Regions from separate parts of the Homo sapiens genome. Here all the other regions are linked to region 3. The links come from fine-mapping of genetic effects on gene expression. A gene starts in region 3. Each other region holds a variant in brackets. All regions are shown on one strand. Distances are between the middles of the regions. Region 1 overlaps IFT43 (intraflagellar transport 43). Region 2 overlaps IFT43 (intraflagellar transport 43). Region 3 holds the start of IFT43 (intraflagellar transport 43).

Evidence for each region.
Region 1: its variant is fine-mapped to the expression of IFT43 in nasal epithelium (TOPMed, PIP 0.99).
Region 2: its variant is fine-mapped to the expression of IFT43 in testis (GTEx, PIP 0.98).

Annotation. Positions count from the first base shown.
Region 1 is chr14:76,079,450-76,090,225 of GRCh38, forward strand. IFT43 (intraflagellar transport 43) reads left to right here. Exons shown (of 9, transcript NM_001102564.3): 6 at 2,846-2,918; 7 at 3,168-3,243; 8 at 3,778-3,840; 9 at 4,009-4,293. The coding sequence ends at 4,128. LOC105370573 (a long non-coding RNA gene) reads right to left here and starts at 1,204. Exons shown (of 2, transcript XR_007064270.1): 1 at 1,113-1,204; 2 at 1-772. RefSeq lists an enhancer at 4,435-5,421. The variant G/A (reference allele first, on the strand shown) is at 4,700.
Region 2 is chr14:76,029,172-76,039,947 of GRCh38, forward strand. The region is part of intron 3 of IFT43 (intraflagellar transport 43); the gene reads left to right. Among named protein-coding and RNA genes, the nearest start is that of IFT43, 49 kb to the left of the region's middle. The variant T/C (reference allele first, on the strand shown) is at 4,789.
Region 3 is chr14:75,981,714-75,992,489 of GRCh38, forward strand. IFT43 (intraflagellar transport 43) reads left to right here and starts at 4,050. Exons shown (of 9, transcript NM_001102564.3): 1 at 4,050-4,127; 2 at 7,172-7,264. The coding sequence starts at 4,074. It overlaps TGFB3 (transforming growth factor beta 3), which reads right to left and starts at 282. Exons shown (of 7, transcript NM_003239.5): 1 at 1-282. RefSeq lists silencers at 587-826, 957-1,076, 4,031-4,340 and enhancers at 857-916, 3,703-4,204.

The DNA of each region.
Region 1 (10,776 bases), 98 kb after region 3:
ATTTTATTGATGAAGAAATTGAGGCATAGAGAGAAAAAGTCACACAACTAGTAGGTCGTGGAGCCGGGATTTGGAGTGGACCCTCCTTCCTCCAGAGCCTGCTTCTTAACCATGGAGCAAGGAGTTCTACATGGCATGCCCCTGACCTCATTGCAGCTGTTCATGTTCTTCTCCGTTTTAGCAACATTGAAGAAAAGGAAAATAAAATAAACATAATTTTTGGATTTTTTAAAATGGTGGTTGCTTTTCAAAAGTACCAGAACCGACTCCTGTCTTCCTTGTATTGTCTCTGTTAAAATCGTGTGCTTTGCATGTCAGACTTTACAACCTGAATCAGGCTACATCACCAGTCCACCTTTGCAGGTCGCCACTGTCTCTTACTGGAGGCAGGCCGGATCACTGCTCATAGGTAATTTTGTGAAGAAGCTAGTTTCCTAAGTCTATTTTCTTTTTTCTGTGTTCGTTCATGGTATACGTGAGAGTGGGGGAGTGGGGAGGGGGGAAGGAGATAAAAAGAAAAAAAAAATTCCCCAGAACATATTATGTGCTCATGAGCACTTGCCTGTGATTGTAAATCAGAAACTGTAAAATTGTGAAGTTCTTTGAAGTTTGCCCAAAACCTGCTCTGCAGACACCTGTTCTGCTGGGGGCCGGAGTTGGATGGCCTGCCTCTGCTGCGATGGCTCAAGCTGTCACTGCACAAGAATGTTCCAGCTTGCCTTGGCCTGGCTGTCATCGCTGGCTCTGTCCCACTCAGGCGGTTCACCGGGTTCTGCTGGGCACCAGGCTTCCAATTAGAGAGAAATCCCACTGTGTGGCCAGCCCCACCAGCGCCGCTCTGAGCAGCCCCTTTGCCAAGGCCCGAGCTGACCTCTGATCTGTCACAGATGGGCCAGCCCCACACTCTTTGTGCACATTTGGAGGAGGGGGTTGGGGACGAAGAGGGAAGCCTGTGGGGAGTGAGAGTGGACATCGGGCAGAAGTGCAATTCCTCAGAGCCCCAAGACGCTGGGCAGAGTTGACAGGACCCAAATGCTAAAGTTGTGGAGGGAAAGGGGAGTTTGGGAAGACCCTGTCCTGAGCCCTAAACTCAGCACAGTGCATTTTCTTACCAACTTCTGAATATTCATCTCAGGCTGGATTCTGCACCCGAGGAGAGCCAGGCACACTCCAAAACTGTCACACTGCCGATGGTGCGTGGCACAGCCAGCTTCCTCTCTGTCCCTCCATAGGGCCTGTGCAGTCTTACCAGCCTGGGGAACGGCATTCTCAGCAGCCTGCACAATGGACTGTATTAATCACGTAGAACGAGAGGGAAAAAGAAAGCTAAATTTCTATTAGCATAAGAAATAGAATCTTAGAGCATTCCATCTCCAATTCTCTAGCAGGATAGAGAGATATAATCTAAGCTCTGAACAGCTTCTTTCTAGCTATAAGACTTGCTAAATGTGGTTCATTATTTGGGGGGTGGTGGATGTGTCTCTGCTTTATTTTCCCTAGCAGCAATTTCTTTCTATTTTTATCCCTTTTCACTCTTTTTATCCCTTGTTTTCTCTGCCTGTCTCTTTCTGTTGAATTTTCTCTGTGTCTGTCTCTCCTTTGCATGCTCTCTTTTTCCAGGTACAACATCTGTGCCTCCACAGTCGGAAGTCATAATAAAGACACCAGGCTTGGAACTGACATTTCCATCCTCTGGCGTCACTTGACTAGAGTGATCAAAAGTCGAAATCACGAATTGCCTGAAAGTGGCAAGGGCCTTCTCAGCTGTTGTTGAAATGATTTGCACCTCTTTGAAAACTAAGATTGAATTCAGTCCATGAAAGCAGAAATGAAAGATGTCTTCACCAGTCTACCTTTGGGATTTCTCCTTCTTTCCGTGTTTACAGTTGCTTTGGGAATTCCAGGACTGTCTCACCCCACCAGGCCTTTTTTCTTGCACCATCCCTCCCTTCTCCCCCACCCCTGACCGTTTAAAACAAAATGTCTCAACCAGTCAGTGATACTCACTTGGAGAAGGAAATGTTTCTTTAGGATGTTAGGTTGACCCATGAGAACATGGACAATTTTTGGTCACTTAAGCAAGTTGCCACAATTAAGGGATGGACTGGTTTCCCAGTTCTCTGTTTGCATGATTTTGTTGGACTGGTGGAAGAAATGGCCTCGTGTCTCCTCGTATGTTGTCTGGAGAGTTCAGAGATGGAAAATCTTGAGACAGCAAGAAAAGCATGATTGTAGAATCAGCATCCCTGATTACATTAGACCTGGCAAATGGACGCCTGGATCCCAGGGAGTCAGGCTATGTCATTAGATGGAAGATGCCCTTGAGATGCAGGCTGAGGGCCCTGATGATTGCACTGCGGGGCTAATGCACATAGAGATCTGGGTCATGAGGAGTGGCACTCACTGCGGCATCCGCTTTGTGACACTACATGTTCTCAGTTCCTCTGTCTCTGACCATGCCAGGCTCACTTGTCAGTTCCTCTTCTTTCCTCTAATAAGCCCTTTGTTACATTTATTTCTTTACATTTCTCCTTGGAGATCCACTGCAGTGGCTTCTAACCTGTTGCACGCGTCAGAATCACCAAGGAACGCCTGGGAAAAAAATCTGGATGCTTGAGCGTGACCCAGGAGGTTCTATCTCAGCAGGTTCTGGAATGAGGCCTGGGATTCAGACATCGTTGAAACTCCACCTTTGATCCTACCCCTAGTTTGTATCTGAGTGTCCTTCCTGCCCCAGCCCACAGCCCCATGGCTGGTGTGTTGAAGGGGAATGAGTAAGAAGTGGAGAAGCAGGCACAATCCCTATGAGTTCTGCAGACAGTGTTGCCTCTGCCTCTCCTTGCAGATATTCCTATCATTCCGGATCTGGAGGAAGTACAGGAAGAAGACTTTGTTTTGCAGGTGGCAGCCCCTCCCAGGTAGGTTAAATCAGATATGATTGGGGAGGCAAAGAACACGTGAATTAATACACTCCAGATATCATCTATAGTGGACCTTGATGTCAATCTGGATCTTTCTGGTGTTGGGCTCCATCCAGGGTTCCCATTTTGTTATTCCCATTCTGGTCATCCCCTGCTGTATACAAGGTTCTGGGGACGGTGGCCCGGCAGCACTCCTGGAACAGGTCCTGCCTGGGGTTCCCGCCTCTCGCTCTCTCTTTCCTTCAGCATCCAGATAAAGCGGGTGATGACCTACCGTGACCTGGACAATGACCTCATGAAGTACTCAGCCATTCAGACACTGGTGAGTGGAACAGCTTCTGCATAGAGAGGCGGGCTCCAAGCAATGGGCTTCAATCCGTAGAGATTTCTCAGTTCCTCCCAAGCTATACAGCGCCTCCACCAGTCCCCTGAGGCTGCCTGCCTGGCACCCATACCTCTGCTGCAGGTTTTATCATCATTCATCTCACAGCAACCCTGGACCCAACATAGTACAGTGTTTCTCAGTGCCAGGCTCCCACCTGCCTCCATGGCTGCCCACTTGGCACCTGATGGCACCCCACTCCCCTCTGTCCCTGTGGCTGTACTGCTGTCACACTCGGTCCTCCTGGTATGGTCCTTTGCCCCAAAGCACGCCCAGCATGTGGGAAGCATAGCCTTCCCTCATTTCTCAGTGGGCATGTGGTTCATTCATGATTTTACTCTCTTGTGAAGGCATTCCTGCAGGTCTCAGTTTGGGAAGTTCTGACACACAAAAACTGATCCCGGTTTTGTGAGAAAGAGTTGCCTGAAAGCCCTCAAGGTGCTCAGCCTGACCTTTTTTTGTTTGCATTCACAGGATGGGGAGATCGACCTGAAACTCCTCACCAAAGTGCTCGCGCCGGAGCACGAAGTCCGGGAGGTACAGTGGTGGCAGCAATTCCCCGGTCTCTCAGCTCTGGCATTCCCATAACCAGCCGACTCCCGGGCTGGCCTGTGCCTCCCTGAGGCCTGGATGGGAGGGAGAAGTCAGCTACAGTTGAGGGAAAAGGCCTTTCTTTGTCTTACCCAGCGAAACCCTTCTTGGCAGGATGATGTCGGCTGGGACTGGGACCATCTGTTCACTGAGGTGTCCTCAGAGGTCCTCACTGAGTGGGACCCACTGCAGACGGAGAAGGAGGACCCTGCGGGGCAGGCCAGGCACACCTGAGCCCGTCACCCATGCTCTAGACATGAAGAAATGCAATGAGCTTAAAGCTAAAGAAGCTTGTAAGCAGCTCCGAATTTTTACCTGGAATATTTTGTAATAAAAATATTTATATTCAGTCAACCACATTGGATAATTCAATTGCAATAAATTGCTTATTCTGTGCCATCTCCTCCATTTCTTTCCAGTCTCTTCTTGGAAAATGTATCACAAGTGAAGGAGAACAGCTTTTAAACCAGCTGATAGGAACTCAGAACTCGCGGCCTTGTTGCGGAGCATGTGGGAGAGTTCGATTCAGGCGGAGAAGGAGTGGGCACTCCTACTGAAAGCTGTTCACTTCTCGGGAGGTTTCAAACAGTTGCCTGCTGGGGTTCTGGGGCGGGGCCTCCCTTCCCGTGGGTGCTCTGGGCCCTTTGTGACCTTAGTGACGCAGCACTGCCACCTGCATCATAGGCTTCCAGGCAGCTGCAGCGGAGGGAGGAGGCGGCGGGAGGGATAAGGAGACTCATTCTTCACTCGCATCAGGGTTTGGTGGCTGTTGTGACAATATTCTCCTTTCTCCCCTCTTCCTGCA[G/A]TCCATGCCTTGAGCTCCAAAAGCTTCTACAGGTTCCCAGAGCCTCATTTCTGATTCTCATGGGAAGGGGCCAGCCAGCAGCCCTGAGAATTCCATGGAAGCCCTCTCTTACAGAGCCTGGGCCTCCCTTCTCCTTATCCTTTTAGATACGTTGCAGCCATCTCCACCGCTGCAAGTATTATAACCGCCTGGTTCCAAGATGTGCTGAGATCAGGAGCAGAGTCCCACCCTTCTCCTAAACAGAGCTGTCTTTTGTTTTTGTTTTTCTCTTTTCCTCCCTGAGACTTCTTATCTGAGGACAGAGCCCCTTCGCTGCCTGCTTCTCTTGGATGCGGCTTTGGGTTAGGCTGGCAGCAGCTAACTAAGGCCCACTCCCCGGCCATAGGGAGCGCTGAGTGCTTCTGTTATCCTGCCTGGAAAGCCCTTCATTAAAATTCAGAAAAACAAAGAGGCTCAACACATCAAAAACCCACTGGGGGGTTATTTTTGTGTGACTACGGTGCCCTTCCCCGGCGAGCCACATGGCTCCAGAACAGGCAGAGCGAATGCTTGTCTGTTAATTATAAACTCGGGGATTTAGTGGCTTTAGGGTTCCATTTCCTCCTTTTCCAGAGTCACACTTTTAGCCCAGGCAGCCCCTCTTTGGAATAATTCCCATGGCCACTGAAAAGTTTCCATCCAGGCTAGTTTTGCTTGAGTCTACATCAGTCTGAAACCCAAAGGAGAAAGGCTGTATTTCTACTCCCTTAATTACTGGAAATCCAACTGCCTCAGGACTCTGATAACCTTGGAGGTCTCCAGCCAGCCTGAGCAAGTGGCTAGGGGCTGACTTCCTTTCTCCCTTTATTTTACAACAGCAGCAACAAGATCTAACATGGAGCTCTCACTGCATGCCAGGTGCTGGGTTCAGCACACAGGAATGATCAGATTTCATCCTCACAGCCTCCCAGTAAAGCAGATGCTGTGGTTATCCCATTTTACAGATGAGGAAACAGACTCAGAGAGGTTAAGAGATCGCCCAAGATTATCCAGCTGAGTGGCAGAGCTGGAATTCCAAGTTCTGATGCCACAGCGCTTTACCACCTGTGTTTCTGTTACCCACTGCTGCCTTCATCTTGGGAAAGTAATCTAGTTTATAGCAGACAGAATTTACAAGTTCACTGGGAGAAAGAAGTCCACTGCCACCACCCCTCCCCGTCCCCACTCTTGTCTGTGGAGTGACCACAGAGCAGAGGGCTTCTGTCAGTCCCCTGGTGTGAAGCCTGGCAACATAGGTGAGCTCAAGAGTCCTGGCCCCAGGGCAGTGGGACTGGGTAGGAGCAGCTCTACGTTGAGCAAACTGAGCTCAGCCAAATCAGGTCCAGGCCACATGTGACTGAGTCTCCTTTCACTTGTCCTGTGCCCTGATCATGTCCTGTCTGGGCTTCTTCCTTTACCCAGCATTTGCTCATCATGGCTTCAGGGTGCCAGAGGAATGGGATGTTGCAGAATCTATGACCGCCCAGTTCTCATCTGACATGGAAAATACCTTCCTTAGGTTACATCCAACGGTGTCATATACTTGACTTCAGAGAGCCTTTCAGGAACATGGCCCAAGAGGGCAGTGACAGAATCAATAAGCATCCACAGGTAGCAGCAATATGGTTTTGTGCAGGTGTGGGGGAGCATGAAGTGAAGAATCTTGGTGCTGCCATTTCTAGTAATACATGGCTTGTTAACCAGTTCCTTACCAGTTTCTCTTAGACGGGCTCAAGTCACTTCTGAGCAGGCTTGGGTAGCCCAGCTGGTCTCTGACAAAATCTCCCCTGGTGTCTTTGGCATTAGGTGGTCACGGCAGAGATGCCGTTCATAGGCCGGGCTGTGATGGGGAAGTTCATTACTTTGTGGAATAATTGATTGCCACTTCCCTCAGGCCAGGCTCTGGTCTAGACACTCCAGATACAGAACTAGACAGGCAAAACTCCCTTCCCTTATAGAGCTTACATTCTGGAAGGGGAGATGGACAAATAAAGTAAAATAGATAGTGTCTCAAGTGGTAAGAGATACTATAGAGAAAAATGAAGCCGGCACAGGGAAGGGAGTGCTGGGGAGGGGGGTCGTGATTTTTTAATAGGGCAATCGGGAGGCCTCCCTGAGAAGGGAGCATTTGGGCACACAACTGACAAGGTGAAGGAAGGAGTGAGACTGGTGCCCAGGGAACAGTGCTCTCAGTAGCAGGAACAGTATTTGCAAAAACCAGGAGGAAGGCATGTGCCTGACCTGTTGGAGGAGTGGCTGGAAGTCAAGGTGCCCGGGGTGGGGGTGACAACGAAAGAGAAGGTTCTCTGGCTCGCTGTGCCCAAGGCCCGGCTTGTCACAGGAAAGGCCTCTGGGTGTCTGGGGTCCTCTCCCTCCTGTGATGACAGCATTCTCAGGCTTCCTTGGGCTTGACAGGCACACTATGGAAAACTTCCCTCAAACTACTGCATGGCCTCTTCATGCCTTGGCCTGGAAGAGGCAGAACTATTGATGCTACATTGCAGGAGAGAACAATGAGCTCTGTCTGTCAGAGACCAGAGGCTGGGAGGCTGCTGCCAGCTCCCCACCAGGAAGGAGGGTGTGCCCACTGCACCAGACAGTCAGAGAGGCACTATAAGGCCCCTGCACGGAGTGCTCCCTGGGAACTCGGCTCCCAGTGAAGAGCTCAAGCCAGAAATTCATCCAGGCAGGCCGGCAGCTGAAGCTTAGGTCATCTCTATCCTTGACTGGTGGTTCATCTTTGCTAAACCCCACGACACTCCAGATGGGCATTTATAACTACATGCTCTCACTGGAAACATGCCACCACCTGTTCAGTGTTGCTTGATCAAAATGTGTTACTGGCACAAATCAAGGCCTTCCTGCTTAGTAGGTAAGGGCGCTTCTGGGCTCATTGCTGCCAGAGACCTGCATGCAAAGTGCTGTTTACTGCAGAGAGATGTGGAAGCGTAGACTCTGCCTTGCTTGACCAAGCAGCACCATGCTTTTCTCCTTCAGGTCAAAGAGTCAATGGGGAAAAGGGTAGGTAGAGGGAATAGGAGTAAATAACAGTGGCAAAGAGCACAGGTTCTAGAATCAGGCAGAATGGGGCTCCAGTCCCAGCTCTGCCTTGTAGCTCTGGGCCCTGGAGCAAGCTGCTTTCCCTTTCTGATCCTGTTTTCTAATCTGGAAAATGGGATGATATTAATATTGTCTTCTTGGGATTGTGGCGCCCAGTAAAAGCCAGCTGCTGTTATTGGATTTGAGAACTGGATAAGATTGAAAAGTTAACGTAGGAAAAGTGACAGTTTATGGCAACAGTGCCTGCAGTTTGCTAGGGGGTATCACCTTCATCTCCCCTCATGAATCACTTCTCAGCCATGGATGGAAAGATGGCTTGGCACCAGGTTTTGTTTTGTTTTGTTATTTGTAACAGCTTTATTTAGATAAAAGTTGTGTGCCGTAAAATTAAGAGTACACAATTGAAGTTGTACAATTCAGTGATTTTTAGGAAATATATGAGTTTCTGCAGCCATCACCATAATCCTGTTCTAGAACATTTTCCTCATCCTACAGAATTCCCTTGTGTCCATTTACAGTTAATTCCTGCTTTCATCCCCAGCCTTGGGCAACTGCTCTCCGGCCCCATCAGTTTGCTGATTCTGGACAGTCCTGAGTAGCTGGGATTACAGGCGTGTGCCACCATGCCCGGCTAATTTTTGTATTTTCAGTAGAGACAGGGTTTCACCATGTTGGCCAGGCTGGTCTCGAACTCCTGAGCTCAAGTGATTCGCCTGCCTCGGCCCCACAAAGTGCTGGGATTACAGGTGTGAGCACTGTGCCCGGCTGCACAGATGTTTTCATTCCACCTAGGTAGATTCCTAGGAATTAAATTGCTGGATCATATGGTATGTTTACGTTTAACTTTTAAGAAACTGCCAAACTGTTTTTCAGGGCCTCAGTTCTTTAGGATATCAGGGTTAAGTAAGTACTTTTTTCTTGTTTCCTGTCCTTAATTTTTTCAAAGGCTGCTGTTGAGTTTGTGGGAGGCATATTCTTCTGATTCCTCCCTCCCTGCCTTCTTCCTATCATTGAGTTTATCTCTGCTTTGAGAACATAGGCCTCATCTGTCTGTATTCCCCACTAGCCTGTAAGCTCTTCCAGTCCAAGACTAGGTGTTGATCGCATTTCTATCCAACTGCATGCCTATTCCAGGAGTTCAAAGTCAAATAAAGCACACTCCTGACCTCTAGAAACTCACAAGCTAGCAAATAAATAGTGTGTGAGTGAAGGAGCCCATATGATCTGCAAAATACAGATGGGAGGAGAGAGAGAGGGATACTTCGCCCACCAAGAAATAACAGAGGTGGGGCTGATTTGCTTTGAGCGAAGGCCACTTGGTTCTTGTAAAGTTTTACAGGAACACAGCCATGCTCATTTGTTTACGTGCTCATTTGTTTACAACAGCTCATTTGTCGATGGCTGCCTTTATGCTACAAGGGGCAGAACTTAGTTGTGACAGAGATCGTCTGGCCTACAACGCCTAAAATATTAGCTATCTGCCGCTTTGCAGAAAAATGTTGCCAACCCCTCCTTAGAGGAGAGAATGAAGATGAGAAATAACAAACCTGCGTGCTCTCAAAGTTCAGCTGCTTGTTTCTATCCAGGAAATTCATTGCAGCAGGAGTGATTTGAGTTAAATGTAAGGAAAGACTAGAAGGGTGGGGAGATTCTGGCCCCTAAAGGAGAGACAACCTTTCTTTAAGAAAAGGAAACGAGCACTCATCAGTTCCAGGAACAGGGACATGATCTATCTGGAGACAAAAAAGCTGGAAAGGGGGACATCTGGCTCCTTCTTGGCCCTTTGATCCTACTTGGGATGTGGGGGTGAGGAAGTCTCTAGGAGCCAAATGCCTTTGTCAGCGGGCTCAGGATATTGAAGAGAAGGCCCAGTGGAGTGGGTGTTAGAAGCAAGGGAAGGGGAAAATGTTGATTTTTCTTTTGGCAAGGCAGAAATCAGAAAGCAAGGGTGGTGGGAGCAGAACGAGGAAGAAGCCGTTCTTCTGTGGCTGTGCCGGAGTGAATTAATTCACGGCATATGTTCCTAGCATCTGTCGTGGTGACCTGGACTGGAGGGGTCAGTGAGAGAGGAGACCATGCCAGGACTGAGCATTAGCCCAGAATTCCCAGGCTGCAGGGGCTCTTGGCTCCCACCGAACGCTGGCTGGCCAGCCCACCCAGGAACAGCTGCTGCAGCTGCAGCCACCAGCGCTGCCTCGGGGAGGAGGGAGAGCATCCCCTTCCTGTGCTCCCCACAAGAAAACACCTGGCCAAGGAGGGGCTGGGAGAAGACCAGAAAGAATCCTGCAGAACGCTATCTCTTCCAGACCTTTAGCGGCGGTAGATTCCACCCAGCAGCCACACGTCCGCCAGCAGACTGCAGGTGTGTCCCCAAAGGACAGCACAGGAGGGGTGAGAGAGCCACAGCCCTGAATGGAGAATGAACAAGAATTTGGGGACTTCCTCTTAAGTGTCAGTCCCAGAATTTCCCTGGATGCTATGTGGGCTGCGTGGTGCTGAAGTGTCCCTTGTGAGTTGATGGTCAGCCCAGAGGAAGCAAGGCAGGCAGGCGTGGTGGCTGAGAATGGGATGATGCCAGGTTCACATCTGTGCTCTTCCACGTCGCAGCTGTACGACCTTGGGTATGTTCTCATAACTCCTTGAGCCTCAGTTTTCTCATCTGTGGAGTGACGCTGAAAATCATTCCTGAATCACAGGGCTATTGTGATGATTAAATGAGCTGATGCTTGTTGAGCTGATGCTTGTTAAGTGTCTGGCACAAAGTAAGCCCTCAATGAAGATTAGTTCTGATCACATTGAATGGGCAGGCAGTGGTCACTTGTTGTGCCTGATCATAAATCACAGGGCATTAGGACCTGACCGGACCTGAGTGGGCATCTACCCCAAGGTCACAAACTGGAGGCCATAGGCTGATGCTGACTCACAGGACATGTTGGGTTTGGCTCATGCACTGTTTTTAATTGTTTTGTTAATTATCAACATTTAAAACTGAAAGGTTT
Region 2 (10,776 bases), 47 kb after region 3:
GAGATGGTATCTCATTGTGGCTTCAATTTGCATTTCTCTGATAGTGATGTTAAGCATTTATTCATATGTTTGTTGGCTGCTTGTATGTCTTCTTTTGAGAAGTGTCTGTTCATGGCCTTTGCCCACTTTTTAATGGGGTTATTTTTTTCTTGTTGATTTGTTTAACTTCCTTATAGATTTTGGATATTAGTCCTTTGTCAGATGCATAGTTTGCAAAAATTTTCTCCCATTCTTAGGTTATTTGTTTACCCTGTTGATAGTTTCTCTTGCTGTGCAGAAGCTTGTTAATTTAATTAGATCCCACTTGTCAATTTTTCCTTTTGTCACAGTTGCTTTTGAGGACTTGGTTATAAATTCTTTGCCAAAGCTGACATCCAGAAGGATATTTCCTAGGCTTTCTTCTAGGATTTTTATAGTTCGAGATCTTACATTTAAGTCGTTGATCCATCTTGAGTTAATTTTTCTTATATAGTGATAGGAAGGGGTCCAGTTTCATTCTTTTACATATGGTTAGCTAGTTTTCCCAGCACCATTTATTGAATAGGATGTCCTTTCCCTGTTGCTTATTTTTGTTGACTTTGCCACAGATTGGTTGGTTGAAGGTATGCTGTTCTAGTTCTAGATATTCTGTTCTGTTCCATTGGCCTCTGTGCCTATTTTTGTACTTTTTTTATTTTTATTTTTATTTTATTTTATTTTATTTTATTTTATTTTATTTTATTTTATTTGAGACAGGATCTTTCTCTGTTGCCCAGGCTGGAGTGCAGTGGTGCAATCATAGTTCACTGTAACCCAGACTCCTGGGCTCAAGTGATTCTCCTGCTTCAGCCTCCCCAGTAGCTAGGACTGCAGGCATGCACCACAATGCCTGGCTAATTTTTTTAAATTCTTATTTTTGTAGAGCTGTGGTCTCACTGTGTTGCTGAGGCTGGTCTCAAACTCCTGGCAATCGTCCTACTTTGGCCTCCCCAAGTGCTGAGATTATAGCCATGAACTATTGCACCCAGCTGGACTCATGGATTTGTATTGTTCATTGTGTTATAATTCATTTCCATCATCACAGTTTTTTTTTCTATAATACTAATGATTATTAGTGCTCAGATTGTCCCATGTTTGGCCAGGGAGAACTTTGAGATGGCTCTTATGCTTTTGTGCTTTATTAGTATTAGAGTACGTGCTTGCTTTTCAACGCAGCAAGATATTCCAGAATAAATTTGTATTTTCCATGTTTAGTCCAGGAGTCAGCTACTTCTCCAAGGACTCCTGGGTCCTTTTGGTGGAGAATAGTTATAGAATTCACGGTCTATATACACACTGCCCATTGCTATTGGATATCTTTGCTTCTAGGCTCTTTTAGTAGGTAGAACTAGGAAACACATTTTAAAAAATACGCTCTATCCTGTAACACACATAAAGTAGTTTTACAGTTACTATACTAATGTCATTATCAAAAACAAACTTCCTAAGTAAAACTCAAGATTTCTTTGTGGTTCTTTTTGTCCTTAGAATATATCACACTAAGGTTCAGGATACTGTTTTCGGAAGTTATTTGAATTATTTCTCATACAGGTTAAGATATCAATTTAATACACAATTACATTCACTTGTTTCTGTCTGTGTTCAATTTTAAGGTTTTTAAAAATCCTTTTTATTCAATTTACTTTTGAATATGTAGAACATTTACACCAATCAATAGTTAAAATTGTATAGAAAGATGTATTCAGTGATGTCTCACTCCCATCCTTATCATCCTCTCCACCTCATTCCCGTCCATCCCATATAGGCAGTTTCTTTATTAGTTTCTGGTTTATCTTTCCTATACTTCTTTTTGGAAAAGTAAACATATGTGTATATATATATAATTATATATACATACATAAAAATTATATAATTTATATAATATACATATATAAATTATATATGTATATATAAGTTTTTATATTTCTCCTCCTTTGTTTCTATATCCTAGGTGTCAGTGAACTATGGCCCACAGGCCAGCTGCCTATTTTTATAAAGTTTTATTGGAATACAGCCACACCCTTTCATTTTAAAAATTGAGATTGCTGATCCACGTGGAATTTATTTTGGTGTATGGTTTTACTTTTTTCTAAATGGCTATTGTCCCAGCACCACTTATTTAAAAATCCATCTTTCTCTAGTGATTTGAGAAGCCACCTTTATCGTATTCTAAATCTTTGTACTTACCCGAGTCTGCTTTTGGATGCGTTATTCTGTGCCAGTGGTGTCTCTATTCCTAGGCTATTATGTAGCATGCTGTTTTACTTATAGACCATAACAATCATTTTTAGTGTTAAGCGAAAACAAGAAGGTGACGCAGAAATGCAGGTCTCATCTACTAATGTGAATCTTATGGAGGAGCTTTGTTTTCCTAAATTATTAGGGGATTTTAGTACTTGTCATATCTGGAATTTATTTTGAAATAAGAAAATAAGACAAATCCTGTCTGCTTCTTAGAGAACAAAAGATTATCACAAGTATTCATTCCTCAGTGAAAATATTAAAGATTTTTCCAGATCAAATCCATTTCCTCTTGGAGAAAGAAGCTTTTCCTTGTCACCTGTTACTTTCTGAGGTATTCACTTGCTTGGCTTTTCAGTCTGTGGCCTGGTTCTGACCCCTCGAAATGTTGGAGTGCCCAGGGCTCTTCCTCTAACCTTCTCTCTTCTCTGTCAACACTCACTTTCTGCATGATCTCAACCCAGTCTCAGGTTTGACTATCGTCTACGCAGTGATGACTCCAGAATTTATGTTTATATTTCCAGCCCAGTTCTCCTCCTGGACAGCCATTTGCCTGCTTGATGTTTTCAACTGGAATATGCAACACAAACCTGACACATCCAAATTAGTCTTCTAATTTCAACCCCTTCTACCCCCTCCCCTAATCGTGCCTCCAAAGTCATCCCTAGATCTCGGTAAGTGGTGACTCTTATCTTCCTAATTGCTCAGATTGTAAACTTTGGAATTATCCTGGCCTCCTCTCTTTATATCACCCTATTCAGTCTGCCAGCAAACCCTGTTAGGTCTACTGTTGAAATACATCTGTTGTCTGAACTGCCAGCACCTGGCTGCAGCCACCATCATTTCTTGCACTGGCTCAAGTGAGAACTTCCTGACGAGGCTCCCTCTGTGTTATCTCTGCATAACCAGAGTGACTCTTTTAAAACATCAGTGCAAACCTTTTACTTGTATACTCAGAACCCTGCAGTAGCATGCCAACCAGTCAAAGTAAAACCCAAAGTCCTTACCATGGCTTACAAGGTCCTACCTTACCTCACTTTACATAAAGTAGCACCCCTCATCGCTCTGTGGTCCCCATTGCCTGCTTTATTTACTGCCACCTGACATATCCACATGCATGCATACATATTCTCTTTTTCTATCTGCTGCAATGTAAGCTCTATGAGAGGAGACACACTCTCTTATTTACATACCCCCAGTCTCCTGCACAGTGCCTAGTCCATAATAAGCACTCGGTGACTATTTATTGAACATATGAATGATCAGATCAGTATTTTTAAACGGTCACTTTACTTTCGGTGTGGAAGGTGGAGAGCTGAAAGGCTGGAAGACCTGTTGGGATAAGAGCCTAAACCAGGGCCATGTTGTGAGGATGGAAAGGAAAGATGATGTGGAGACATTTTGGAGGTAGAGTTAATAGAAATACCAGTGGTTGGATGTGCGGCAGAGGGAGGAGTTGAAGGTCACTGCAAGGAGCCCCACTTAGGTGTCTGGTTGGGTCATGGTGCTATAAGAGAGGGAAGGCAGGAGGGACCTGATTTAGGAGCTGATGGTGGGACATGTGGGTAATTTCCATAGCTCAAGAGTCTAAAAGTGAGGTCAAAAAAGAGATGCACTTTGAGTCATCTACAAAAGTAGGAGAAGACAAGGACAGATCATTGGATTTGGCTATTTGGAGGTTACAAGGGGCCTTTGAGAAAGTGGTTACAGTCATTTGCATTGGAGCCCCAGCCAGATTGCAGTAGACTGAAGAGGAAGTGGGACATGAGGAAGTGGCCAGTAATATAGGATACTATGAAAAAAGGAAAGGGATGGAACAGTATTTGGAAGAAGAGTCTAGATTAAGAATCATGTCTGCAATATTCGAGGAAAGAGTAATTAGAAATGAAGTAGGGGGTTAACTGATGTAGCAGGATACTGGAGGGATAGAATAAGACCTTCCAGGAGAGATTGATTGACCTTGGACAGGAGGAAGTAGGGCGGATAGTTTTCCTCCAAAACAGACGGAGCTTGGAAAGGCTGGGTAAGTTATTGAGGAGGGTTGAGGGGAATGGGGACTTTAGAGAATTTCCTTTTGGTTTGGCTTCTTTTTTTTTCCATTCTTCAAAGTGGGAAGACAGACTGACTGTTGAGATTGTTGAGGCAAAGGAGAGTGGCATCTTGAAGTCAAGTAGAGCAGATTTAAAACAGAAAAAGAGGCTGATGAGGGGTAAGAGAGGCAACTTTCGAGCTTTGAGGACCTACCTCATTAAGGTTGGAAACATGAGCTCCTACCATTTGCTGGATACTCTAGTGAGTACCAGAGTGGAAGATATACTTCCTGTCCCGCAAGAGCTCAAATTCTAATTTAGGAGACATTTTCATCCACAAAAATCAGGAATGGCAAAAGGAGCATATTGGCAGAAGGTGCACATAGTAAGTGAGGAACAAATGAATGAGTAACACTGGTGATGGGATATCAGAAGAGAGAGTAATCATTATGGTCAGGGAGTGTCTTATAGCGGAGATAGGAGTCAAGCTGGATGAATT[T/C]TGATGGTCAGAACAGGATCATGAAGAAGGCATTTTGGTTTAAGATCTGGTGTTGTGAGAGTGATAGTAACTTTATTGTCAGTCTAGTTACAGCAGAGAATTGACCCCGGAAAATAGCGTATTCACCTTAAATTCTTTTTGGGTGATAATAACAATGGCATTGTGCTAGATACTTGTCTTAATTTGGCTGCTATAACAAGTTACCGTATATGGGGAGGTTTAAACAACAAACCTTTATTTCTCATGATTCTGGAGGCTGGAAATCTGAGATCAGGGTGCCATTGTGGTTGGGTTCTTGGTGAGGACCATTTTCCTAGTTACGTCCTTAAGTGTCTTTTCTTGGTATGTGCATGTAAGGAGTGAGATTTTATGTCTCTTCCTTGTCCCCATCATGAGGGCTCCACCCTCATAATCTCATCTAAACCTAATCAGCTCTGAAAGTCCCACCTCCAACCACCATCCCATTGGGGATTAGGATTTCAACATAAGAATTTTGGGGAGACACAAATATTCAGTCCGTAGCAGCACCTTATATGTGCATTACACCAACTCTGTTGGGTAGATTCTGTTCAATAAGCTAGGTATCCCTGTGCAAAGAAGGTAGGAGGAAAGTGTCACCAGTGAGAAGTAGAAGGGCTGTTTATGAATCTGATTGAGGAGCTCATAGCTAAGGAATATGAGTTTCTGGGATACCTTGGCTTTATTTGCATAACACTGCCCAGGATAGAGAACAGAACATGTGTCAGCCACCTCACTGGCTAGATATGTTGGGTGCCAGGGCTCCATTGCTCATCCTTGAGCCACAGAAAGGGCCAAGTTCAGGAATTGCCTGGGGCCTGGGATCACTACCAGTCCCTTCCCCTTGGCGTCAGAGTCATAGCTATGCCAGAGATTCCATCTTGGAGCTGTCCTTGGCTCTGAAGTTGCCCGAGGTAGGACACTTATGGTGGGTCACTGACTTCGCCATGGGGAATAGAGCTGAAGAGAGAAAGCCAACTTGGTAAAGAGAGGAAGGAAAGGTAGTTTGATTAAGTTTTGTCTCAAAGTGTCTGTTTTTGGGTTTGTCCCTGCATTGATCTGCAAGGGAATGAGGCAAGTAATGGCCCCTCAGGGACTTTCAGGACTTTGCTCTCAATGTCAGCCGTCATTTTCAATCACCCTCTCCCTCCCAGCCATTAATTTTGGCCCAGGATCATGGGGACTTGTCCATCTATCACTCCTAATTGACACTAAATGATCTGTCAGTTTATTGATGAACGGCAGGAGTGGAATTGTCACAATATATTTTACTTTCTAACAACTCCTCCTGACAATTTTACCTTGTCCATCTCACTCTCCTCACATAAATCTCCATTGGCTGCTCATTCCTTCTCATGGGCTGTTCTGGTGCCAGCCACTTCCACACCATCTGCACGCATCAAGGACATTAAGATGGCGGTAGAACTGCTGTGTGCTGGTCCCGAGGTTATCCCCCTTCCCTCCTCCTTCTCTCTTTCTCTCTCTCTCTTTTTTAATGGCATTGATGTTCCAAGGATACTAAAGGGCTTCTGTCCTCTCCCTTTATGTCATTGCCATACCAGAATCTTTTTGCTTCCCTTTAGCAGCAAGTAGTTGATTCCTATTAGGCTAAAAAGTGTGAAAAGCAAAAACTCATGGAGCCAGAGGGCTCCTAGATCTGTAAGCACAGTTGCAAACATACGTTCTGTCCTTTTAAACCGGCTCTGTTATAGGCTGTCCATCCCCATAGAAGTCAATTTCCCAGAAAGGTGTCACAGAGGGAAGGTTAGCTGGAGCTGCCCAGCTGGTGTGCCATGTGCTGCACTGTGGGTGCCAGTGTGCCATGATGTGGGCACACCCTGCCTGTGGGGTAGACCTAGCCAAGGCCCCTAGGCTGGTCACCTGTGGCCATGAGAAGTCTCATCTGTCCACCCATTTGTGTGTTATTTTTAATTGCTTCATGTCTTGAAAAAGACAGGGAAGTACTATGTCAGACATATATAAGGGCACACAGTTATTTAGTCTCAAGAAGATATACCTATGGATGTGAACACGCTTTATCCTATATGAGGCCAAGGATGAGTAGAAAAGCTTGACGATATATAAATAATAAATAATGCAATTGATTCCCTTCCTCATACCTTTCCTGCTGCTGCTGGAGATAATTTTTATTAATTGATAAGGACTGTTTTTGTTTGTTAACCATCATGACATTAGGATGCATATCAAAATTAATAATTCCTTAATGTCATCTGATATCCAGGTCATATTGAGTTACTTCCATTGTCTCAAAAATGTGTTTTATAGGTGGATTGTAAACAGAACAAATCAAGGTCCATATATTGTATTTAGCCATTTCCTTCCTTCCTTCCTTCCTTCTTTCCTTCCTTCCTTTTTTTTGTTTGTTTGTTCGTTCGTTTGTTCTTTTGTTCTTTCGTTCTTTCTGTCTTTCTTTTTTTTTTTTTTTTTGGTGGAGTCTCACTCTCTTGCCCAGCCTATAATGCAGTGGTGTGATCTCGGCTCACTGAGTCTCCGCCACCCAGGTTCAAGCAATTCTCCCACCTCAGCCTCCCAAGTAGCTGAAACTACAGGCGCGCGCCACCACACCTGGCTTATTTTTGTATTTTTAGTAGAGACAAGGTTTTGCCATGCTGGCCAAGCTGGTCTTGAACTCCTGACCTCAGGTGATCCTCCTGTCTCGGCCTCCCAAAGTGCTGGGATTACAGGCGTGAGCCACCATGCCTGGCCTAGTTGTTATATTTCTATAGTCTCTATTTTATTCTGCAACAATCACCACCCCCCTATGTTTTCCCAATGCCATTGATCTTCTCTTCCTCCCTCCCTTCCTTCCTTCCCTCCCTCTGTCCCTCCCTCCCTCCTTCTTTTTTAGAAACAGGATCTTGCTCTGTTGCTCAGGCTAGAGTGCAGTGGCACGATCATAGCTCACTGCAACCTTGAACTCCTAGGCTCAAGTGATACTCCTGCCCCAGCCTCCCGATTAGCTAGGACAGGTGCACGCCACCATGCCTGGCTAAATGTTTAAAAATTTTTTGGAGAGACAAGGTCTTGCTGTGTTGCCCAGGTGGCCATGATGATTTCCTTTTTTAAAGAAACTTGTCCTGTAGAATTTCCCACATTCTGGATGTGGTCTGTTGCTTCCTAGTCATGGTGTTTAACTTGTTTCTCTGTCCCTCATATTCCCTGTTAAACTGATAGTTAGGTGTAGCTCTAACTGGGAGTTCCATTTAGGCCCAGTTTTGGCAGGAATACTTTGTAGGTGATGCCGTGTACATCCCACTGTATTGCCTTGAAGGCACAGGTATGAGAAGGCACAGGTGTCCGGTCATTCCACTTTCAGCCTGTGATTGACCAGTGGGGGCAGGGCTGTGTGAGTCTCCACTTTATAGCGCCCATCAGACTCCCCTCTCATGGTTGTAGCATCCATTGCTCATAGTTGCTAGAGCCATGATTTCATTAAAGGTTGTCAAGTGATGACTGTCTAATTTCCATTTATTAACAGAAATTCTTCTGTAATGAACTCTTACCAGCTACTTGGCTGCTTGAAATACATTTTATACTTGTAACCCTACCTTTTTCTCTTAGTATTTTTATTTTAAAAAATTTCAAACCTATAGAAAAGTTGCAGTATTAGTACAGCAAACACCCATGCACACTTTTACCTTGAACAACCAGTTGTTAATATTTGCCTAAATGTGGCTTTTCCCTCATTCTCTGTTTTTTTTTTTTTAATTTTATTGAACTGATTAAGAGCTGCAGCTGCCTTTGCCTTTGCATTACTATTAATAGTAACAAGCGAGTGGTTACTATGCAAGAGATATTTGTCTATTTTGTTTGCATCTGGGTCTGTAGGGCTTGGAACACATAGGTGCTCCATACATATTTGATCAATGAGTAAATTTGGGGCATTTCTTACAGAGCTCTAATAATTGAAAAGGGTGTCCCTGGTAGGACGAGGCAGCTCTGATTTCCAGTAAAGTAAAAGGACTTAATCCTTGACCTTCAGATTTTCATTGGTAAACACAATTTTGCTCATTTGGTTTTCAAGAAACACAAAACAAAATTAGAAGTATTGAGAATTGATTTTTCCCTTGCTACCCTTAGCCGCAAAGAACCCGGAATCAGTATGGCATGACCGGAGTCCTGGGCAACGTGGGTTCTTAACTGTCAGTCAGGTACCAGAAATGAGTGTCCAATATTGGGTAAAATCAGATGGGGCTGTTGCATGTGAGATGGTTGAGAAGGGAAGGTCTTAGGAAGCTAATTGTGCTCGCATTTCCAGTGGCTGTGCCTAGAGTTTAGAGGCTATGTCTCTATTTCTGTGGTTTTTGGAGATGCTCGTGTGAACTCTCTGCTTGGATCTCTGTCTCAATTTCACCGTCATGCATTTTGCCCTGCATAGATGCTTTTCTTTCACGTGCCTTCCAAGATATGGTCAGTTTAGAAAGGATGGCTTTAGGACCATGTGACATCATATCTTTTTAATGTACATCTTAGATTTGTTTATTCTAGGTAGGCTCCCCAAAGTGTAATTTTTTGCTTTGCTCTCAGAGCCTGGACAGAAAGATGATAGAGGAAGAGCTAGATAAGTTTTTATTTTCATGAACTTAGAGAATCCACAGTTATTTTGAAAAATTGGGATTCAGTTGCATTGTTTATTATAGGAAATCATAGATGTTCAGCAAGATTTGAAGATGAATAGCCCCCCAGACTGTGTACATCGAAATAACTAGGGAAAAATAATTATCCCCATTGAAGTAGGGAAAAGTGTGAGATGTGTCACACTCATGCTATCTTTAGTCCTTTCCTATCTTCACACATTTGTATTATTTTGGTAGATTTCATTTGTTCTGGTAGCTGGCGGGTGGGGAGGAATGAGAATAATGGATGGGTCATGGTGGAACAGCTCATCTGTGGAGCCTGTTCCCTGTTAAACTGATAGTTAGACCTCGCTCTAACTGGTGGTCGCATTTGGGCCTGGTGTCCTTTCCTACTTAGCCCCTGAAATGTGTACAGTGAGGTGGGTACTTCCTGAAAGTCACTGTTCATGGGCACAGATGTAAAAGTAAGCATTTGTTCATTCTGTGGACCCTTGTCCAGCACAGGCACGCAGGTCTAATGTTAGACACAACCCCTTTTTGTAATGGTATGTTGCATTTTTTTTTTTTTCTTTTTTTAGACAGGGTCTCATTCTGTTGCCCAGGTTGGAGGGTGGGGATGTGATCATAGTTCACTGTAATCTCAAACTCCTGAGCTCAAGCTGTCCTCCGGCCTCAGCCTCCTCAGTAGCTGGGACTACAGGTACTCCTGCGTAGTTGAGACTACAGGCGTGTGCCACCATACTCGCCACGTTTTTAAATTTTTTGTAGAGATGAAGTCTTGCTATGTCACTGAGGCTGGTTTTGAATTCCTGATCTCACGCAATCCTCCTGCCTTGGTCTCCCAAAAGTGCTGGGATTACAGGTGTGAATCATTGTGCCTGGCCTGCCTTTTTGTGGAGTGAAGTGTCTTTGACCTTAAAGCTCAAATGTAACTAAGTTGAGAAAGGTGGATCATTTCAAGAGGGCTGGAAGAGAGAAAGGGAGTGGGATGTGGAGACAGTATACATTTTTAGATTTTAGTCTTTGTATAACATCGTGTCTTCTTTTGAGACATTAGAACTACTGGTGAATTTTATTTATTTATTTTTAAATAAAAAAGAAACATAGTATAGAATTCAAAAGATATGAAAGAGTGGGATATGAAACCTGAGTCTCTCTCTCCCTTCCTGACTTTCTCAGGCACCCAGTTTCCTCTCCTGGAGGCAACCACTTTTAACCAGTTTTTTTCGTGTTTCTCTCCAAAGGTACTCTATGCAGGTTAATATATTCTCCTCACCCACCTACAGACACAAATGGGAACATATGCATTCTGCACTTTTAAAAAAATCTCTAACAATATTTCTTGCTGATCTTTCTGAATCTCAGTACAGAG
Region 3 (10,776 bases):
CTCGGCTTGTCTTCTGCCTCGGCCATTGCTTCTGTCCCCTGCTTCTCTTTAAAAAATAAAAAGGAGAAAAAAATAAAATAAAATAGAAGCCAGTTCACGGCACGCCTGCTCCGGAAAGCTGTTATTCCTTCTCTCGCACGCCTCTTCCCCTGTCTCTGCCTCTCTCGCTCATTCCCTTGGACTTGACTCTCTGCTTCCCTCCCTTTCTCTCTCTCCCTCTCCCTCTCCCTCTCGCTCCTCTCCCTCTCTCTCTCACACACACACACATGCACACACACTGCTTTCTCTATTTCTCTCTGCTGAAATTTTATACCTCCCTCCCATGACGTCTCTGGCCTGGGGTGGGGGAGGGAGGGACCAGCGCACGCAGCCTCTTTTGCTGCACGATGTTAATGTTTTAAACAGGCACAGGAAAAGCCGAGCCCTTTTGAAAAATACTTTGCGAGTCCTCTCGTTCGACGTGGTAGCTGAACTTTTTTTCCCCTCTTGGAATCACTCCTGCCACACGTTGGCTGTTTTTCTGGAAAGTTACTCCGATGAGCCCCCTCCCTCCCTTTCCCCCAGCCCCGGCGCCCTCTCGCCAGCTGTCAGTCCGCGCCGTCCGCGGCCCGCGTCTACTCTCCCTCCTGGTCCCCCGGTCCCGGGGCCGCCCGCGGGCCAGGCCCAACCCGGGGCAGGGTCCGCAGAGGGCGCGGGACCCGGTAGGGGCGGCCATGCCAGCCTCGCAGAGGGGACTCCCAGCCTGCGAGCCGGGTCGGAGGGTCGGCGTCCGCTCCGCGGCGATCCTGGCCCGATTCTTCATTGACAAGATCGGAGTCGGGAGGCGGGCAGAAGCCTGGAGACGCTCCAGGGGCAGTGAAAAATGGTGGCGTTTTCCGGAAGATCGAGGGTGCCCTCTGGCGAGGCGAGGCCGCCAGTGAAGGAGCTCGGCTGGTCGGGAGCCGGGGAGGCTCGGGGGCTGGGGGCTGCGGGGTGGGGGCTGAGGGGCGGGAGAAGGGGCTGCGGTAGAGAGCGAGAAAAACAAGACCCAGGCCCCGAGGAATCGCCTCCCTCCCGGCCCGACGTGCGCACGAGCGCACCTCTCCCTCCCCGACCGCCGCTCCGGAGCCGCTCTCGCAGAAATGTCATCCAGATGTTCAGCCTCCCTCCCCGCCGAGGTCTCCGCAGGGAGCTGCGCCAGCGAGCGCGAAGTCAGCAGTTGGCCCGAGCCCATTTCCCAGATGGGTGAGGGGAAGTCGGCTCTGTGCTTTCGCTCCTCTTCTCGGCCCGAACCTCTAGGCCTTTTCCCACGAGCAGCCAAGGGAGGGTAGGGCACGTGGCTCCCCGCACCCCGCAACACAGGGCTTGCCTCTGAACTGAACTTTCCTGAGAGTGAGTGCCGCTCCCACCCCATCTCACTCCAGCCTTCCTGGACCCTTTCTGAGAGGTCTGGCTTCCAGGCCACTAACTGAAGGGGCTGTTCTCTGTATCCCAGCACAGCGGTGGGTCACTTTACGGATGAGGAAACTGAGGCATAGAGTTTTTTGTTTTTTTTTTTACAGACCACACTGCTTGTGAGTGATGGAGGCGATATTTTACACAGGCTATCTAGCTTGGGTAGGCATTACTTTCATTTGCAAAACCAATGGGAAACCTAGGGGTAGAAACTTTAAAAGTAACTTGCCCAAGGTCACATAGTTATTAGGTGTCAGCTGTTGGGATTTGGACCCAGGACGTTGCCAGATTCTGGACTTAATTACTATGCTATACTGCCTCTGAAATTTCAGAAAAAGTTTAATGTTTACTATATACCAGGCACTATTCTAGGCTCTGTGAAGAATATCAGTGAACGAAACAAAACTCCTGCCCTCAGGGAAATTTTATTTTAGAGGCAGGGGTGGGGCAGTGGAGGAGGCGATAAACTAAATAAATATGTAAATGATGTAGTACGGTAAAAAGTGCTGAGCCAGGTGCAGTGGCTCACGCCTGTAATCCCAGCATTTGGGGAGGCCCATGCAGGAGGATTACTTGAGCTCAGGAATTCGAGACCAGCCCCAGCAACACGGCGAAACCCAGTCTCTACAAAAAAATGGAAAAATTAGCCCGGCATGTTGGCGCAGGCATCTACTTGGGAGGCTGAGGCAGGATAATCACTTGAGCCAGGGAGGCAGAGTTTACAGGGGGCCAAGATTGCACCACTGCACTCCAGCCTGGACGACAGAGCAAGACCGTGTCTCAAACAGACAAGCAAACAAACAAATGTGGTGTGGCAGAAAATCAAGCAGGGAAGGAGGATGGGGTGTGCCTAGGTTGGGGGATGTTGCAGTTTCAAATAGGGTGATAAGGGAAGGCCTTTGAGCAGACAGTTGCAAGATAGGAAGGAAAATTATTAAAGTTATACTTTTTTGGACTCCACCTCTACCAAATCAGTCTCCAGAGCTGAGGCCCTGGCATCTCTGTTTCTTTACAAACCTCACACGTGATTCAGGTGCTAAGCAAGTTCTGGAAGCTACTACTGCAGGGTACCTCTCTGCCCAGAGTGAGGACCATTTGCCTTCTGTTTTCAGCAAGTTGGGGAAGAAGTGGGGGTGAAGGTCTGGAAACTGACTATAAGGTGATGGTCGTATGCTGTGAGCTTACAAGAAATGGAAAAATCCAAAGATTAATCCCTTCTTCCTCATCTGGTGCCGAAGAAGAAGGGAACAAGGGATTCATTGGAGCCTATATTTCATCTGTCTTGGATTTTTGGCAATGAGTGTTTCTTCAGATTAAAATCTAACAAAGTATTCTCACTGAGAAGCAAGTTAACAAAGGATCTTAGAGATAATCTCTAAAGTAATTACAAGGGAGGAAACTGATAGCGGAAAGGGCTCTGCTCTGACTACACAGGTAGTTTTCAGGAGAGCTAAGATGAGAACACAGCTCTTCTGATATCCAGGCCAGTGCTCTTGCTGTCACAGGCATGCTAACACACAGTCCTATCCAGTAACATGTGTGACTGAACTGAGTGATTTACTGGATATTTAAGAAATGCTTGCAATGAGGTTTCAGGGGTGCTACTCCCACTTCCGAATCCTTGCTTTTAACCTGTGTCCATCCAGGCCTTCCCCTCAACATAATACTGGAATGTTGTTTGCTTTCAGGGCTATCAGCCCATCTCCTATGGATCTCAGCCAACCAGTGTCAGGGACCTGGCCAGTGATATTGACTTGGAGATCTCATATGAAGAGTCAACAAAGACGCAACTTAAATGCCCCATTAGGCTGGGAATTTGTGGTACATCTCCCTCTGCCAGCCTAGGAGAATGGCTGGCACCCAGTAGTATGTGCTGGAGATAAATACTCCAGTAATGTCTGGTGTCAGAAGGGCATTTGGCTCTGCTGCTTGGCACTTAGGTGATTTTCCTCAAGCCCCTTCTTTGTACCTCAGTGTGCTTTATTGTTGTGTTAGAGATACTACTGCTACTCACTTTGCGGGATTATTGGGATTTAATGAGATATTGAATATTTGTACTTTTGAAAGTTATTACTACTCAGCTATTTGATGTGTTGATTCAGCCTCTCTGTAAACTTCTTGAAGGCAGAGATTATGTATATTGCAGTTTCCATAATTCATGGTAAACCATTTATTACACCTGATTCCCTGTTTTCTCATCTGTCAAATGGAAACAATACCACTTATCTTGCTTCCCACACAAGGTTGTTAATGCCCCTCACGTTAAGCCAATAACTGTGACGGCCTTCTGTACCTTGCAAAGAGCTGTACAAGTGGGAGGCATCAGTATAGCAGTAGTAGTGCTTTGCACTTAATATATTGATATATTTAAACAGAGCTACAAATACAGACAGTTCCTAACGACCAAATTATTTTACCGTCTCGCAGGAGCAGCGTTGGCGAGTTTTAATAACCGGAGGTTGCTTCCAGATGTCAAGCAAGGCAGATTTAAGAAAGATTCGGTAGTTTGGAGGATGGCACACAGAATCCAGGAACCATGCTGCGTACCCTTTAAAAATTGGGGTGGAGGGGCGGGGCTGTTAGCAGGGACGCGTCTGGGCCAGTCGGTTTCCAGGAAGTGACGTCAGGCGGCCGCGGAGATGGAGGATTTGCTCGACTTGGACGAGGAGCTTCGCTACAGCTTGGCTACCTCCGTGAGGACCAATTCGGGGGCCTTGGGGGCCAGGATTTGGCGGGTGGGGAGGAGCGACCCCGCCGGCCCCGACTTCTCTGAGGCGACTCAGGGCGGCAGGCCTCGCGCCGCGCCGGGTGAGGCCCAGAAGGAGGCAGCCTCACCGCCCCGCCCCCAGGCCACTGTGGGCTCCGCCGCTGCTGGCCTGGGGTTTGCTTTCTTTAAAATCCTCAGAAAGTAGAAAACACCCTGTCCCCGCCGGCGTCTAGGACCGTGGGAAATTTCCGAGCCTTTCTCCGTTTTCTAGAGCCCCGAGTGCGAACTTCCCCAGAACAGATCGATCACAGGGTGATAGGGGAGCCCCGGCCGGGGTCGCACTCGCTCCCATCCTAGAGTTTTTCCTTTGGGACACCTCGTCGCAGAAGTTCCTGCAAAAGCCGCACTGTTTTATGCATGGAAGGGAGGCAGGCAGGGACGGCCTTTCTTCCCGGTAATCCCCGTGGGGAGGTGGGAGTTAACCTCAGTTACCTCAGTAGTTAAGGAAACCAAGACCGATTTGTAACGTGAGGGAGTGATTAGGTGCTCAGGCACTGAGGCCAGATGGAGCATAGAGCTGTTGCCTGGGTTCAAAAAAAAAAAAAAAACCTAAAAAACGATTTAACCTTTCCGAGCCTTGGTTTCCTTATGCCTAGAATGGAGGTGTTACAGTGAAAAGGAAATGCAACAATACATGGGAAGCGTGTAACTCAGTGCTTGGCATATGTTATCACGGAAGAGGTCAGAAGAGGTTAGCTACTGCTGCCTATGAGGCTGTGGTTTACCCAGCGTTATAGTTAGTAAATAATGGAGCTAGATTCAAGACCCAAGTTCAGTGTCTACCTTCCTCCTTTGTAACCCCCATCAGGCCTTTTTATCTTTAAAACTGGTTAGGATCGCACTTACTAAAAGATTGGGCCCCAGAGCAAGTCTTTAGTGTCTGCTGTGAAATCTCTAAGTGTTTTGAAGGTCACCAGGCCTGCTGATACGTGAATGTTTTTTAGTACCTGGGGATGTGAATGTAGTTATTCATTCATTCAACAAATATTTATTGAGCCCCTACTGTGTATCAGGCAGTGTCCTAGGTGCTGGAGATACAGCAATGAATAAAGCAAAGTTCCTGCCCTCATGTGATTATGTTGTAGTGGGAGAAGATGGGCAATAAATAGACTACATTTAACATACACAAAAATCAGGCAGTAAAGAAGTTTTTCTACCCTATGGATCTATACAGGGTCTTCAAAAAGTTTAAAACCTTGAAATACTTAAAAATTATTAGAGAAAACACCTGTGAACAGCATTTAGCGACAAGATCATTGAATTTTTGTTTTAGCACAACCGCCATATGTAGGATGCTGTATTCAGATACTCAGTGCTGTGACAAATGGAAAAGGGCAACCATGGTGAAGGGATGGAATTGTCTGACTTGAGAAGAAAATAAGCTGCTTATTATCAGAAAGATTGTTTCCACCATCCCTGAAACCTAAATGACACTACAATTTGAAGTGTCGACATTGCATAAGAGTTTTTACGAGCTCTTCTGTAACCCCTCTCAGTTTAGTGGGGCAGTCAGTCCTTAGAACATCTTAAAACAAGTTTCAGCAGGGTAGAGTGGAAAGCACCCAGGAAACCCAGGATCTGAAATCAGAAGGCTTTGCTCCTAGGTTTATGTCAGCCACTTCATCACCTTCCTAGGCCTCAGTTTCCTCCTTTGTAAAATGACAGCAGTCTCAGTTTCTGTCCATTATTGTGAGAATCAAAGGAAGCCACATTAAATGAGATCTAAAAGTGCTTATATTAATGCTGTTTTTTTTAAACAAAGTAAGCAAAAGTATAAATATTTCAGCACCCAAGAGTCTGACTAAATAAAGTTTTGTTTATGTGCTGGGAAGCCTTAGAGGCAGAGTCTCCACCGGAGGGCCTTGGGAAACACCTGCAAATGATTCATTTGATGGCCAAGAATTTTGAAGTGCTCTGATTTCCAAAGATAATGTCTCAAAATTCTTGTACTAGATTTCCCTTAATGTCTGTAAAGGCAAACCCAGTTACTGTACATATCAGAGCAAATGCTGTTTTCCATTTACCATGGAATTTAGGAATTCTTTCCAAAAGCCTGTTTGATAATGATTTTCATGCCAAGCTGCAGATTTGAAATTAAGCCTTCCTAAAATCCTGCGTAGGAACATGGGAGCATTTACCACCTTCTTCTCTGACCTGTGGCATGAGGTATCTGCCCATTCTAGAGGAATTTGTAACTGCATTTCTTTGGGTAGAAAATAGAATTTTCTTTTGCCATCTCTATAGCTGTTGAAAGAAAACCTTGTCCAGCCTGGGCAGCACAGGGGGACCCCATATCTACAAAAAAATAAAATAAAGTATCCAGATATGGTGGTGTGTACCTGTGGTCCCAGCTACTCAGGAGGGCAAGGTAGGAGGATCACTTGAGCCTAGGGGGTGGAGGCTGCGGTGAGCACTCCAGCCTGGGCAACAGAGTGAGAACCTGTCTTAATTTCCTATTTTCCTATCAAATAGAACTGACCTCAGGTGCTTTGTTTTAAGGGGTTTTAGAGGGTTTTCTAAAAACATGTCCAAGTAACTCAAATCCCGTTCTCCACCACATCATCATAAATCCAGTCCTTGCTTACCTTCCCAGGCTTGTCATCTTTTTTTTTGTTTTGTTTTGAGATGGAGTCTTGCTCTGTCACCCAGGCTGGAGTGCAGTGGCACAATTTCGGCTCACTGCAACCTCCGCCTCCCAGGTTCAAGCGATTCTCCCGCCTCAGCCTCCCAAATAGCTGGGACTACAGGCGCCCGCCACAACGCCAGGCTAATCTTTTGTGTTTTTAGTAGAGACGGGGTTTCACCGTGTTAGCCAGGATGGTCTGGATCTCCTGACCTTGTGATCTGCCTGCCTCGTCCTCCCAAAGTGCTGGGATTGCAGCTGTGAGCCACTGCGCCCGGCTGGATTGTCATCTCAGTAGTGGCCCAAATGACATTTGGGTCAGCAGTGCCTTCTGTTTCTCCTTACAGAGGGCCAAGATGGGTCGCCGAGCTCAACAGGAGTCAGCGCAGGCCGAGAATCACCTCAATGGCAAGAATTCCTCTTTGACTCTGACTGGAGAGGTGGGTGCTAAAAAAAAAGAAAATCTGAAGAAATACTGTTTAAGAGTTAGTGATTCCTTAATGACCAAGGATTTGGTATTCCATATTTCTTCTCTTGAATGCCAACCCTTTCTCCTGTCTTGATTTGGGAATTCCCTTCCTTGGCATTTGTCCTTGTAGCAGGAAATGGAAGAACTTTTTTTCCTTGATGCCAGACTAGTTTCTGTGCATTTCCTTATATTCTTAATGTAGAACTTTTTATGTTAGCTGAAGCAAGGGACTGGGAAGTTTCAAAATCCAGTAGGATTCCAGGTTTTTATTTCCGCTGAATAAATGCCAGTGAGGCAGACTGGTGACGTAAGGTTGGATTACACAATTGGACATTGCTCTCGGTGGTGACCTGCGCTTTCTACAGTCTTCCGGCAGGAAGCAGATCATTTACTGGCCTTACTTTCCTGGAAACTTTTCCGAGTAGCCTGGAATTATGGGAAATGATCCAGCTTCTTTGTGGAGGGTGGGTAATTCTGATGAGCAATACTTTTTACTGCCAGGGCACTACTTTTGGCAGCTTACTCAGAGCCCCTTTTTACCTTCCTCTGTCCATTTGAAAAAACTTTGCAAAAGTCAGCCTCAGGGTCATCCTCTGCCAGAAGTTAGCTCTTCTCTAACCTCTCCAGGCTGACTTAGCAGTCCTTCCTTTCACTTCCCATAGTACCTATTGTGAACATATGCCATTATATGTGAATTGTCTTTTTACATGTCTGTCTCCCCCACCGGACAGTGAGTTCCCAGACAGCAGGAAACCTGGCTTCTAGCTTGCTGGCCCATAGTAGGTTTGCAACAGATGAAGAGACCCATGCTGAGAAGCCTAATGGGTCAGGCAGGTGCATGAGCAAATGAACCGGGTACCTGACATGGACACACTTCACTTACATATCACATAGGTAGGAATATTCTTCATTTTCGTAGGAAATGCATTCTCCACCACTTTCTTAAGCTCTCCACATGGCCTTGTCCATTTATCTTTCATTTTCTCCTTTTAGAAGTGTGGGTATGGAGAATCATTACTTTAAGATAACATCTGTGCTGGCCTAGAAAAACTAGCAGCTGACCCCTTGGCATCACTGCCTGGAAGAAACTAGGGGAGTGAGTTAGGGCAGGGGGACTGGGAACTGGAGGCCACATGCCCCCTCTAAAGGGACAACCACTACTTAGCCAAAGCTGGTTGGTGCTGTCGAGAATACAGGCCCAGTATTGCCAGATATGATTCTTCAAGAGATGCTGGCAGTCTAAAATTTTATGTGAAAGCAACACATTTTTAGAGGTTAGCACCTGATTAAGAAAACCTAATCACCATATGGACTGGATATTAAATCATCATATGGGCTGGATTTGGTCCAAGGATTGTCAGTTTGTAACTGCGGCCATGGCACCTCCATTGTGATACTTATTACATTGTATTCTAATTGTTTACATATCTGGTTCTCTCATAAGATATGAGCATCTGGAAGGCAGAGGTTGTGTCTTATCATCGTACCCTATTATCTGTCACAGTGCCTGGCAGAATAGGCCTGCAATTGTTATTGCGCAGGATGAGGTGGGGTCAAGTACATAGTGTGTGATGTACTTACACATTAGAAGCTATGTAGAAGTGTTATGGGGCCTGGGGCAGGGAGGTTGGGAGGCGAGGATAGTGGAGCATTGGAGGCACAGTTAGGAGAGGTGATATAAAGTAGGAATTTGGTGAAAGAAGATATACCAGACCCAACCCTGGATCTCAGGGAGCTTGAACTGCAGTGGTGTATGTATTTAAAGAGAAAACGCGGAAGCAAATGACTGAGCTGATGGAAGCCAATTCTTGGCCTCTGGCACTTTACACTGTTCCACATGGGTCCAGGAGGATTAATTCCAACACCAGATCATTCATTCATTTACTCAACAACTATTTATTGAAGCACACAGTAAGTGCCAGGCACCATTTTGCAGGGTTGGCATATTTCAGTGAACAAAAGAGACAAGATCTCTTGCCATAATGGAAGTTACATTCTCGTGATCACTGGCACCCAGGAAGAATAATTAAAAGTCTACTTAAGGCTAGGCACAGTGGCTGATGCTTGTAACCCCTGTAACCCCAGCACTTTGGGAAGCCAAGGCAGGAGGATTGTTTGAACGTAGGAGTTCACGACCAGCCTGGGCAACCTTGTCTTTGCAAAATATTTAAAAATTAGCTGGGTTTGGGTGGCATGTGCCTATAGTCCCAGCTACTTGGGAGGCTGAGGCAGGAAAATTGCTTGAACCCGGGAGGCGGAGGTTGCAGTGAGCTGAGATCTTGCCATTGCACTCCAGCCTGGGCAACAAGAGTGATATATACATAAATATATAATTAACAATAAGAGTATATATTATATATATATATATAAATATTAACAAGAGTGTGTGTGTGTGTGTGTGTGTGTGTGTGTGTGTGTGTATGTATGTATATATATTTTAAAGTCTACTTAATTGTGAAGGAGGTTATAGCCACCTATGGTAGTTAGGTGAATGAGCCTGTGATGACCTCATTAGGCCTTGAAGCCTTATATGACCCCCATACCAAATCAGCTCCTAGGCTGGGGTCAGTGGGCCCTGCTTGCCTACCATCCACTTCCCTTGGCTCCCATGTGAGAATCATTGCTGTGAGAATATAACTCCATAGTCACAGAGTGTGATGAATCCTTTCAGGGTTTCAGCCATTCAGTAATACCTACTTATTTCGAGGTTTACCTTTTTTTAACTCTGTGCATTACCATTTTTGTGGGAGAACATGATGAAAAGTCATTCTGCTCTTCACCCAACTGTTGCCTCTGAAAGCAAGATGCCAGTTAGGATTCCAGGATCCCTTTCTCCCTGGGCTAATTGAGGTTTAAACAGTGTGGGCAGCCTCCCACGGGGCCAGATGCTCACTGTGCTGTGTGGGACTTTTTGGCTGTTTCTTTCTAAAATTAGATCCCAAGACTTGTGTGTGTGCCCATTTACATTCCGATTCTATTACTTGATATATTTATTTTTGTCCTCTTGCTGACTGTATTCTAGGATGAAGATATCCATGCAAACGTAAATATGGTACCTGGGAGCTGTCAGACATGCTGGAGTTACTTTAGACTTAAGTGGAAATTAGTTCAAACACATGGTTATTTTAAAGCGAGGTAGTGGAGTTGGGAGCTCTGGTGAAGGAAGCAGAAAGAACACAGGGCTTCGCACCAGAGGACTGGGTGCTAATTGCCTGGATTGTGATTAAGTCCACCAATCTCTCTAATTCTCCATTTCATTATCTGTCAAATAGTGATAGTAATACCACCAGGTTGATATGGGGGCAAGTGAGATACGCATTGAGACGCTTTTTAATAAACTGAAAAGCACTGTGCAAGCATTCATTCAATAAATTAGTGAATAAAGGCATATTGGGACAGCACTTTGCTGCTTTTATTAAAGGGCACCGAAGAAAGAGCATGCCAGCCAGAGTCTCTTAGAACTGATTTGGAAATCTGTTCACA